Linked DNA regions of Homo sapiens: region 2 is linked to region 1. Evidence: fine-mapped expression QTL. A gene starts in region 1. The other region holds a variant in brackets. All regions are shown on one strand. Distances are between the middles of the regions.

Region 1 (5,377 bases):
GATCCGCCCGCCTCGGCCTCCCAAAGTGCTGGGATTTGAATTATTTTTTTCTTTTGAGATGGAGTCTTGCTCTGTCACCCAGACTGGAGTGCAGTGGCACGATCCTGGCTCACTGCAACCTCTGCCACCTGGGTTCAAGCGATTCTCCTGCCTCAGCCTCCCAAGTAGCTGGGATTACAGGCGTGTGCCACCATGCCCGGCTAATTTTTGTATTTTTAGTAGAGACGGGGTTTCAGCATCTTGGTCAGGCTGGTCTTGAACTCCTAACCAGTCTCGGCATCCCAAAGTGCTGGGATTACAGGTGTGAACCACCATGCTCGGCCTTTAGGATTTGAATTTTTTATTTATTTGTTTTTATTATTACTTTTGAGATGGGGTCTCATTCTGTCATCCAGGCTGGAGTGCAGTGGCGAGATCTCGGCTCGCTGCAACCTCCGCCTCCCAGGTTCAAGCAATTCTCCTGCCTCACCCTCCCTAGTAGCTGGGATTACAGGCACGCACCACCAGGCCCAGCTAATTTTTGTTTTTTTAGTAGAGACGGGGTTTTACCAGGTTGGCCAGGCTGGTCTCGAACCTCAGGTGATCCGCCCGCCTCAGCCTCCCAAAGTGCTGGGATTACAAGTGTAAGCCACTGTGCCCAGCCTATATATCATCTTTTATTGGTTTTGTGAGATAAGCTACTGCACCCGGACTGAATTTTTTAAATGTAAAGTTCTTCTTATATGTTTCTCCAGCACTCAGAAAGCAGTTTTCCCCTTCTTTTAGGAAGGCTGTTCTGGAATAAGGTAAGTTGTCAAAAAGGGTACTAGCTCTGGTGGCAAAAGATTCAGTGTTGCAAGAGGTATACACAACTTTGCTAACTAAATGCCACGCAAAGTCAGGTGGAGCAATTCCATGTCAACAAAACACATAAGATCATTACTGTATGAAATAGCAAGGAAAAATGTTGAAGCTAACCCCTAGAATCCATAAAGATCATATGAGATCTGCAGCTAGTTATTAAGAAAACTGCAGAGTCATCAACAAGTGACATTTACACAATGCTCTCTGAATGAATCATGTCATAGTAAGCACTTTGAAATATGAGACACGCTGTTGGGCCTAAAGATGCTTAATCTAAAAAAGTCATTAATTCAGGAAGAAATATATGTATTCCAATGCAGAATGAGAACAGGACCAAGATATTTTAAAAGGGGAAATATTAAACCCGGTAAGAAGAAAATGATACTATTCTGGAATAAAATGTTACCAGAAAAAGAGAATTAGGAGCTCCTTTGAGGGCCTAAGCCTTTGCCACTTACAGTCTCATCTCAGAGGGGTGTGAGTCATCATCCTCTCCCATTATAATGATGCCTTTGAGCTTGACATTGCCCGTAAATCTGCCAGAATGCAAAAGAGAAGGTTGTCAAACCTGAGTTTGAATACCTGTTTAGTTGTGTGACCCTGGGCAAGACCCTTCCCCTGTATGGGCTTCAGTTTACTCATCTGTCAACTTGTACTAGATAATTTCTAAGATCCTGTCTACCTCTAGCATTCTACAATTCTAAGAAATCTACCTCAATTTCTCAGTTATTGTTCTACAAATACATCTGTTTCCAGTCTGCACCAAGAAAGCTATGATGCTTTCCTCCTCAAACCCACCAAAGTAATTTATCCCATTTCTAGAAGCAAATGTGTGCTCTTGACACCAGTGAATGAATCCATCTGAGGCAACTGGGTACAGCCTATTTAGCCTGAGGTAGGCACCAAGGAGATACTTACGGAATATTAAACAGAAGCTCTTCATCTGCATCACTTTCAACAAACTGGAGGGGATGGGGAGGGGGGAGGAGAAAGCAACAAATATTTGCTGAGAGCCTACAATTTCAGGCATCTCCCACCCTGCTCTACAACTGGGGTGCAATGGGAAGAGTCACTCTCCCTTGGTTTTCCAAGACTTATTAACTTGAAGCTAACCAGTCTTATCCAGTGTCATAACAGCCACAGGCCACCCAACTGGAAGGTTCTTAACAAAAAGCCCATGAATGAATTTCCAGGGTCGAAGAGCCTTCTGAAGTGTGAACTGAAAGGCAGGTGTTTATGTGCATTTTTCTGAGAAGAAGGTCCACTGCTTTCAAACAGATAGCAAAGGGGCCTGCGACCCCACAATGTAAAGAACATTTGCTCTATATGGGAACCACCTTTCATCTCCCTAGGCTCATCTTCACCAGGTAATATGATGAGGCAGCCATTAGCACCAATGGTCCAACGGCCCTCACGACCATCCTCTCTAGCCCACACAGCCCTGGAATAGAGCGTTAGGCTGTGTAGCTTGACAAAACTGTCCCCGTTCCCTCTAGGCCTCAGTTTCCCTATATGCAAAATGGGGAGACAACGCTGCTCGCCTCCCAAAGAGCTGGCAGGAGACAGGCACGGAAAAGCGCTTGGCAACCAGGCTGTCGTTATTCTTAACATCAGAAATGAGTAGACCGACGGCCCGAGGCCCCACACGCACCCTGCCCCGCCCGCCCCAAGCCCCAGGCGGCCCACCTTGGAGCGGTCGGTCCGCTCCTCCCACGGCTTGAAGACGCCGCGGCCGCTGCCCTCGCGGCTCTCGTTAAGGCATTGCAGCCGCTCCAGGTCGATGCGCAGGTACAGGCCGTAGGCCAGGCCGCGCTGCTCGGGCGGCTCCTCCCGTTCGGCGGCGCAGCGGCAGCCACCCCCGCCGTGGCTGTGACCGTGCGACATGGCAACGCCGCCACCTGCGCGTCCTCTCGGCCCCACCGCCGCGCTCGCTCGGCTCGGCTCGCCTCAGACCAGCTCCGCGCCGTTCAGCTCCGGCAACTAAGCGCGCCGCGCCTGCCGCGTCGTAAAAAGCGCCGCTGCGCGGCGCATGCGCGTGGGGAGAAGGCGGGGGGGCGGGGGGGGTGGGGTCGAGCGGAACTGACGTAGGACGCGCGCCTCCCAGGTGCCAGAGTTCGTATATGACTCCAGTCCTGGCGCTGGATGCTGCTGCTGTTCCAGCTTCCTAGGTGTGGAAACTGAAGGACCAAGAGATTAAACAGGTGTGCTGAGTAAACTCACAGGCTGAGATTCGAATTATCCTCCCCCGACGAGGATGGAGCCTTCGCTGTCTTCCTTGATCGCCACGTTTCTTTGCGAGCCGATGAAGGAAAGCGTGAGGAATGATAAGGCCCTGGAGACTGGAGAACGCGAGCTTATCGCTGTCTCACATGCGCACGGCTTAGACGTTGAGAGCTCACAGGCCCACTTGCATAACCACTTTCTTGATAGCGGGGTTACAGCTTGAGAGCATGGGGCTTTGTGCACGGCCAGACCTAAAGACTACTCCTGGGTCTGCTACTGGCCATTGTGACACCTTAAGTCATTTCCCCTATTCTGAGACTCCGTTTCCCCGTCTGTAAGGTGGAAAGAATAGTATCTGTTTCATAGGATCACAGTGAGTATTAAATGAAATAATGCAATTAAAGAACTCAGCAGGCCGGGCGCGGTGGCTCACGCCTGTAATCCCAGCACTTTGGGAGGCCGAGGCGGGCGGATCACGAGGTCAAAAGATCGAGACCATCCTAGCCAACATGATGAAACCCCGTCTCTACTAAAAATACAAAAATTAGCTAGGCGTGGTGGCGCGAGCCTGTAGTCCCAGCTACTCGGGAGGCTGAAGCAGGAGAATCGCTTGAACCCGGGAGGCAGAGGTTGCAGTGAGCCGACATCGCGCCACTGCACTCCAGCCTGGCGACAGAGCAAGACTCTGTCTCAAAAAGAAAAAAAAAGAAAAAACTCAGCAAATGGCTGACACATGATGGGCATTCAGTAGCCGATGGTTATTACGGTCAAATCCAACCACAGCAACTTACTAGCTGCGTGGCCTTGGGCAAGTGACTTGATCTTCTGAGACTCAGTTTACCCCCTGTGAAGTGAAGGGATTGGACTAGATGATCTCTGCGTTTCCTCCCCCATGTGATATTTCAAAGTACTTTTTTTCGAACAGCTGGTTGTGGCCTGTCAATAGGTTTTAAAATCCGTTTATAGAGAATTGTGATCAACATTTAAAAAAAAAATAGAATACAAAAAAAAAAAAACCCAGAATGTATCACACATTTCAAGTCTCAATTGATGAAACTTTTGTTTCAGTTTTGAGTTTGTATTCAGACACAATATGATGTGTTTTTCATATTGTGGGTTGAGATCAAAATAATTAAAAGTCACTGTTTAGAGGTGAAATAATCTTGTTTTCAGGATAGAATGTTTTCCTACTCCCTGGTGGGGAAAAGACAGGATACAGAAAGAGAGTTATGGGATACCCTGGCTACCCTCTTCCCTTCACATCTGGCTCTGGAGTGCTCAGTGGGGCTGGTGAAGTATAGACCAAAATATCCATTTTTTCAAGTTCCATTCAGAAATATTTTCTGGGCCACATGCAGTGCCTCATGCCTGTAATCTCAGCACTTTTGGGAGGCCAAGGTGGGAGGATCACTTGAGCCCAGGAGTTTGAGACTAGCCTGGGCAACATAGGGAGACCCCATCTTTACAAAAATAATTAAAAATATTAGCCCAGCATGGTGGCTCATGCCTGTGGTCCCAGCTATTTGGGAGGCTGAAGTGGAAGGATCTCCTGAGCCTGGGAGGGTGAGGCTGTAGTGAGCTGTAATCATACCACTGCACTCCAACCTGGGTGTCAGAGCAAGACTGTCTCAAAAAAATAAAAACAAGAAAAATATTTTGATGTCCTATTTTAGTTACTTGTGCAATAAGCAAGCTTGGTTCTGTTTCAAAATAGCTCAGTGCCGTGAATTATTCCTGCTTTTAGGTCACAGTTTCAGGTAAGGGACCTGGAATGTGGCAAACAGTAAATGTTTACTTGACTGATATACTTGGTAGCCTTTCTTTGGTAAGAGTGTCCTTTTGAAGAACCAACTCAGGCCTTACCCCGGAGATCTACTCATTTTGGCTTTTTCCTGTTGCCTTCATTAATGATTTATTTGAGCACTGTGTGCTAAGCACATTATGTAGTTCATCTCAATTAATTGTCACATGAACTTTAAGAGCTAGGTACAGCCAGGTGTGGTGGCTCACACCTGTAACACTTTGGGAGGCCGAGGCGGGTAGATCACTTGAGGTCAGGAGTTTGAGACCAGCCTGGCCAGCATGGTGAAACCCCGTCTCTACTAAAAATAGAAAAATTAGCCAGGCATCGTAGCGTGTGCCTGTAATCCCAGCTACTCGGGAGGCTGAGGCAGGAGAATCGCTTGAACCCAGGAGGCAGAGGTTGCAGTGAGCCGAGATTGTGCCACTGCACTCCAGCCTGAGCGACAGAGCGAGACTCCATCTCAAAAAAAAAAAAAAGAGAGCTAGGTGCTATTACCTACTGTTATCT
Region 2 (5,377 bases), 72 kb after region 1:
TGACCTTGTGATCTGCCCGCCTCAGCCTCCCAAAGTGCTGGGATTACAGGCGTGAGCCACTGCGCCCGGCCAAGACAGGGTCTTGTTCTTTTGCTGAGGCTGGAGTCCAGTGGTGTGATTTCAGCTCAGTGCAGTGTTGTACTGCTGGACTCAAGCAATCCTCCTGTCTTGGCCTCCCAAGTGGCTAGGACTACAGGTATGCACCACCATGCCTGGCTAGTTTTTTTAAAACAATTTTAATAGAGACTCACTATGAGGCTTTGCTATGTTGCCCAGGCTGGTCTCGAATGCCTGGCCTCAAGCAATCCTCGCACTTTGGCCTCCCAAAGTGCTGGGATTACAGGTGTGAGACACTGTGCCCGGCCGCCTCTCAGGCCTCTTAATGCTTAAGTACCCTAAGGTTCAGTCCTGGGTCCTTTTCCCTTTCTGTCATACTCACTCCCCTATGACTTCATCCAGTCTCAAGACTGTAAATACGGACCTCCCTATGCTGAAGACCTCCAAACAGATATCTGCAGACCAGCCTCCAGAATGCCTACTCAACATCTTCCTTTAGATGATAGATTTTAAGTTACGCATGTTCAAAATGGAATTCCTAACTGTCAAATCTGTTCCATGCTACCTTCTCCATCGAAATTAACAGCAACTCCATACTTCTTTTGCTAGGGGCCAGAAACTTGAGTCATTCTCAACTTCACTTTCTCTCTTATCTTTCATCCAGTTGTCCATGGAAATCTTGCTGGTTTACCTTCAAGATGTATCTATCATCTGCCCATGTCTCACCACCTCCAATGCTGCCACGACGTCTGGACCAGCATGAATGCCTGGCCTCAACCTCCCGGGCTCAAGCCATCTTCCTGCCTCAGCCTCCCAAGCAGATAGGACTACAGTTGCACAAGAGCACTGAGCTGACAATACTTTCTGATAAGTCTTCCTGCTTCCACCCTTACCCCCCATATTCTGTTTTTAATATGCAGTTACAGTTTTAAAATGGAAGTCAGATCATGTGATGCCTCTGCCAACCTAGCAAGGAGTGATTCATTTCGCTCCCAGTAAAGGCCATAGTCTTTCTAACACCCTACACAGCCTGCACAGCGGCTGCCCATCATCTCTGACCCCCTCCTCCTCTTGCCCTCTCACACTGCCTGGCTGTAGTGGGCTCAGTGCTATAACGCACCTCTGCCTGAAGGCCTTTGCTCTAGTCTTCCATCTCTCCAAAAGCTCCTCCTCACAGATCCAAGTGCCCAACCCTTACCCACTTCAAATCTCATCTTCTCAGTGAGGCCTCCTCTGACCAGCCTTTCCTCACCCCCTCACCCCACTCTACTTTTTCTTTTCCCAACACACATACCATCCTATAACATTCTCTGTAATTTACTCGTGGATTGCTTATTGTCTGTCTCCCTCCATTAGAATGTAAGCTCCAAGGCAGGGATCTTTGTCTTTGTTCACTGATGTATCCTATGCCCCTTAAACAGTGCCCAGCACATGGTAGACGCTCAAAAAAAAGTTACTGGATAAGTGACTTTAGTGGACACACTTTTGTTTTGTTTTTGAGATGGAGTCTCGCGCTGTCACCCAGGCTGGAGTGCAGTGGTGCGATCTCGGCTCACTGCAAGCTCCGCCTCCCAGGTTCACACCATTCTCCTGCCTCAGCCTCCCGAGTAGCTGGGACTACAGGCGCCCGCCGCCACGCCCGGCTAATTTTTTTTTGTATTTTTAGTACAGACGGGGTTTCACCGTGTTAGCCAGGGTGGTCTCGATCTCCTGATCTGGTGATCTGCCCGCCTCGGCCTCCCAAAGTGCTGGGATTACAGGCATGAGCCAGCGCGCCCGGCCGTGGACACACTTTTAAAAAATTTTTCTTTTTGTTTTTTCTCTTTTTTTTTTGAGACAAAGGCTTGCTTGCTCTGTCTCCCAGGCTGGAGTGCAGTGGTGTGATCTTGGCTCACTGCAACCTCTGCCTCCCAGGTTCAAGCAATTCTCCTGCAGTAGTTGGGACTATAGGTACCCGCCACCATGCCTGGCTAATTTTTTTTTTTTTTGAGATGGAGTTTTCGCTCTTGTTGCCCAGGCTGGAGTGCAATGGCGCAATCTCAGCTCACCGCAACCTCCGCCTCCCGGGTTCAAGCGATTCTCCTGCCTCAGCCTCCCTAGTAGCTGGGATTACAGGCATGTGCCACCACGCTCGGCTAATTTTGTATTTTTTTTTAGTAGAGATGGAGTTTCTCCATGTTGGTCAGGCTGGTCTCGAACTCCCGACCTCAGATGATCCTCCCGTCTCGGCCTCCCAAAGTGCTGAGATTACAGGCATGAGCCACCATGCCCGGCCTCTGCCTGGCTAATTTTTGTGGTAGAAACAGGGTTTCACTGATGTTGCCCAAGCTGGTCTCCTGAGCTCAAGCAGTCCACCTGCCTCAGCCTCCCAAAGTGCTGGGATTACAGGCGTGAGCCACCGTGCCTGGCCTTTTTATTTTATTTTTTTTAAGACACAGGTGTCCCACTCTTACCCAGGATGAAGTGCAGTGGTGTGATCACAGCTCACTGCAGCCTTCAACTCCTGAGATCAAGCAATCCTCCTGCCTCAGCCTCCCAAGTAGCTGGGACCAAAGACATGCACCACTACACCTGGCTAATTTTTATTTTTATTTTTAATTTTTTGAGACAGAGTCTCACTCTGTCACCCAGGCTGGAGTGCAGTGGCGCAATCTTGGCTCACTGCAACCTCTGCCTCCCGGGTTCAAGTTATTCTCCTGCCCCAGCCTCCTGAGTAGCTGGGACTACAGGCGCCCACCACGCCTAGCTAATTTTTTTGTATTTTTAGTAGAGATGGGGTTTCACCATGTTCGCCAGGTTGGTCTTGATCTCTTGACCTTGTGATCTGCCTGCCTCGGCCTCCCAAAGTGCTGGGATTACAGGCGTGAGCCACCACGCCCGGCCTATTTTTAATTTTTGTTTGTTTGAAATGGAATCTCACTCTGTTACCCAGGCTGGAGTGCAATGGCACAATCTCGGCTCACTGCAACCTCTGCCTCCCGGGTTCAAGCGATTCTCCTGTCTCAGCCTCCCAAGCAGCTGGGATTACGGGCACCTGCCAACACCCCGCTAATTTTTGTATTTTCATTAGAGGCGGGGTTTCACCATATTTGTCAGGCTGGTCTCAAACTCCTGACCTCAGGTGACCCACCTGCCTCAGCCTTCCAAAGTGCTGGGATTACAGGCGTGAGCCACCTCACCCAGCCGGCTAATTTAGATAAAAAAATA[T/G]GTAGCAATGGGGGGTCTTGCTATGTTGCCCAGGCTGGTCTCAAACTTCTGGCTTCATGCAATCCTTCCAAATGAGCCACAACACCCAGCCAGTCACATTTTTTAAACAGTTACATCTTTATTTTAGTATACTAGAAAGTAATACAATAAACATGTCAAACCTGCAAATTCAGTAGTAACAGAGTTCTTTTATAACTTTTAAACAAAGTATCAGGTAAATAATTGTATTTCCTAAGTAACCTGAAGGTGTTACTTCAAACTGAGAAAGCCTGCCCTCCACACAGCAGAGGCAAATTCAAACCCTCCACCATTCTGGAGGGCCTTTACTGGTAAGGGTTGCATTGGAGAACTCCCAAATCTGGCTGTGCATACAACTCACCTAGGAAGCTCGTTAAACTTTAAACAGAGTCCTTTGTTCCATTTTAAGTTCTCGGGAGTTGGGGCCTGGAATGCACATTTTAAACAAATATCTCAGGTGATTCTCCTATACCCAGCCCAGTACTGTGCAAGGCTTAAGGACTGGTGGATTAAATGACCTCTGAGGGCTCTTCTAGCTCAGAACTTCTGCCTCTGTGGTTGAAACTTGATCAACACATCACACACTGCAGCGTTTTTCAAATTGCGGATTAAAATCTACTTACTGGGCTGGGCGTAGTGGCTCATGCCTATAATTCCAGCACCTTGGGAAGCCAAGGCAGGCTCACTTGAGCCCAGTTAGAGGTTACAGTGAGCTGTGAACACACCACTGCACTCCAGCCTGGGTGACAGAACAAGTCCCTGTCACAAAAAACAAGCTCCTTAATAGGTGATATGATTTGGCCCTGTGCCCCACCCAAATCTCATCTCAAATTGTAATCCCCACGTGTGGAGGGAGGGACCTGGTGAGAGGTGACTGGATCATGGGGGTGGTTTCCTCCATGCTGTTCTCGTGATAGAGTTCTCAGAGATCTGATGGTTTAAAACTTCACCCTTTGTGCTCTCTCTCGCCTGCCACCCTGTAAGACATGCCTTGCTTCCCCTTCCACCATAATTTTAAGTTTCCTGATGCCTCCCCAGCCATGCGGAACTATGAGTCAATTAAAATCTCTTTTTCTTAATTACCCAGTCTCAGGTAGTTCTTTATAGCAGTGTGAAAACAGACTAATACAATGGGTTAGAATCAGCATTAGGGGCCGGGCACTGTGGCTCACACCTGTAATCCCAGCACTTTGGGAGGCCAAGGCGGGCAGATCACTTGAGATCAGGAGTTCAAGACCAGACTGGCCAACATGCTGAAAACCCGACTAAAATTACAAAAATTAGCCGGGCGTGGTGATGCACACCTGTAGTCCCAACTAAGGAAACTGAGGCAGGAAAATCGCTTGAACCTGGGAGGCAGAGGTTGCAGTGAGCTGAGATCACACCACTGCATTCCTGCCTGGACAACAAAGCAAGACCTTGTCTAAAAACAAACAAACAAAAAAATAAATAAATAAATAAGAGAGAGAGAGAGATCAGCATTAGGAAAAAAAAGTAAACAACTATACAATAGGACTGCATTACCTGTAGTAAGGTTGTTTCATGAAGCTTTTTCCAGAGGTGAGTATATATGTATGTAGTGATATACAAAATACATTTTTTGCCCTTCCGCTACTCTGAAGGGATTTTTTTTTTTTTACTGTGAACTGTAGTCAAAAACCTTTGAAAGCCACTGCTGTTGAGAAAACAATGATTCTCAACCTTCAGTGTTGTAAGAATGTGAATTCTTGAGCCCTACAAAAACCAAGTTTCTGAGAAGAGTTCAGGAATCTGTGTATATATTATATATGTATTTATATATATTTTTATATATGTATTTATATAATATATATTTATATATTATATATGTATTTATATAATATATATTTATATATTATATATGTATTTATATAATATATATTTATATATTATATATGTATTTATGTAATATATATTTATATATTATATATGTATTTATGTAATATATATTTATATATTACATATGTATTTATGTAATATATATTTATATATTATATATGTATTTATATATTTATATATTATATATTAATATGTATATTATATATTATACTATATATATTTATATTGTATATATTAT

What was found. PIP is the estimated chance that this variant, and not a neighbour inherited with it, causes the effect. A credible set is the group of variants that fine-mapping cannot tell apart.
Region 2: its variant is the best candidate, but not a certain one, in a credible set for the expression of PITHD1 in whole blood (TOPMed, PIP 0.59).

What each region holds. Positions count from the first base shown.
Region 1 is chr1:23,775,866-23,781,242 of GRCh38, reverse strand. PITHD1 (PITH domain containing 1) reads right to left here and starts at 2,825. Exons shown (of 6, transcript NM_020362.5): 1 at 2,530-2,825; 2 at 1,762-1,805; 3 at 1,302-1,379. The coding sequence starts at 2,727. It overlaps ELOA-AS1 (ELOA antisense RNA 1), which reads left to right and starts at 2,946. Exons shown (of 4, transcript NR_038280.1): 1 at 2,946-3,044. RefSeq lists enhancers at 696-1,895, 3,149-4,101 and silencers at 2,446-2,495, 2,586-2,895.
Region 2 is chr1:23,703,606-23,708,982 of GRCh38, reverse strand. No RefSeq gene overlaps it. Among named protein-coding and RNA genes, the nearest start is that of RPL11, 14 kb to the right of the region's middle. The variant T/G (reference allele first, on the strand shown) is at 3,265.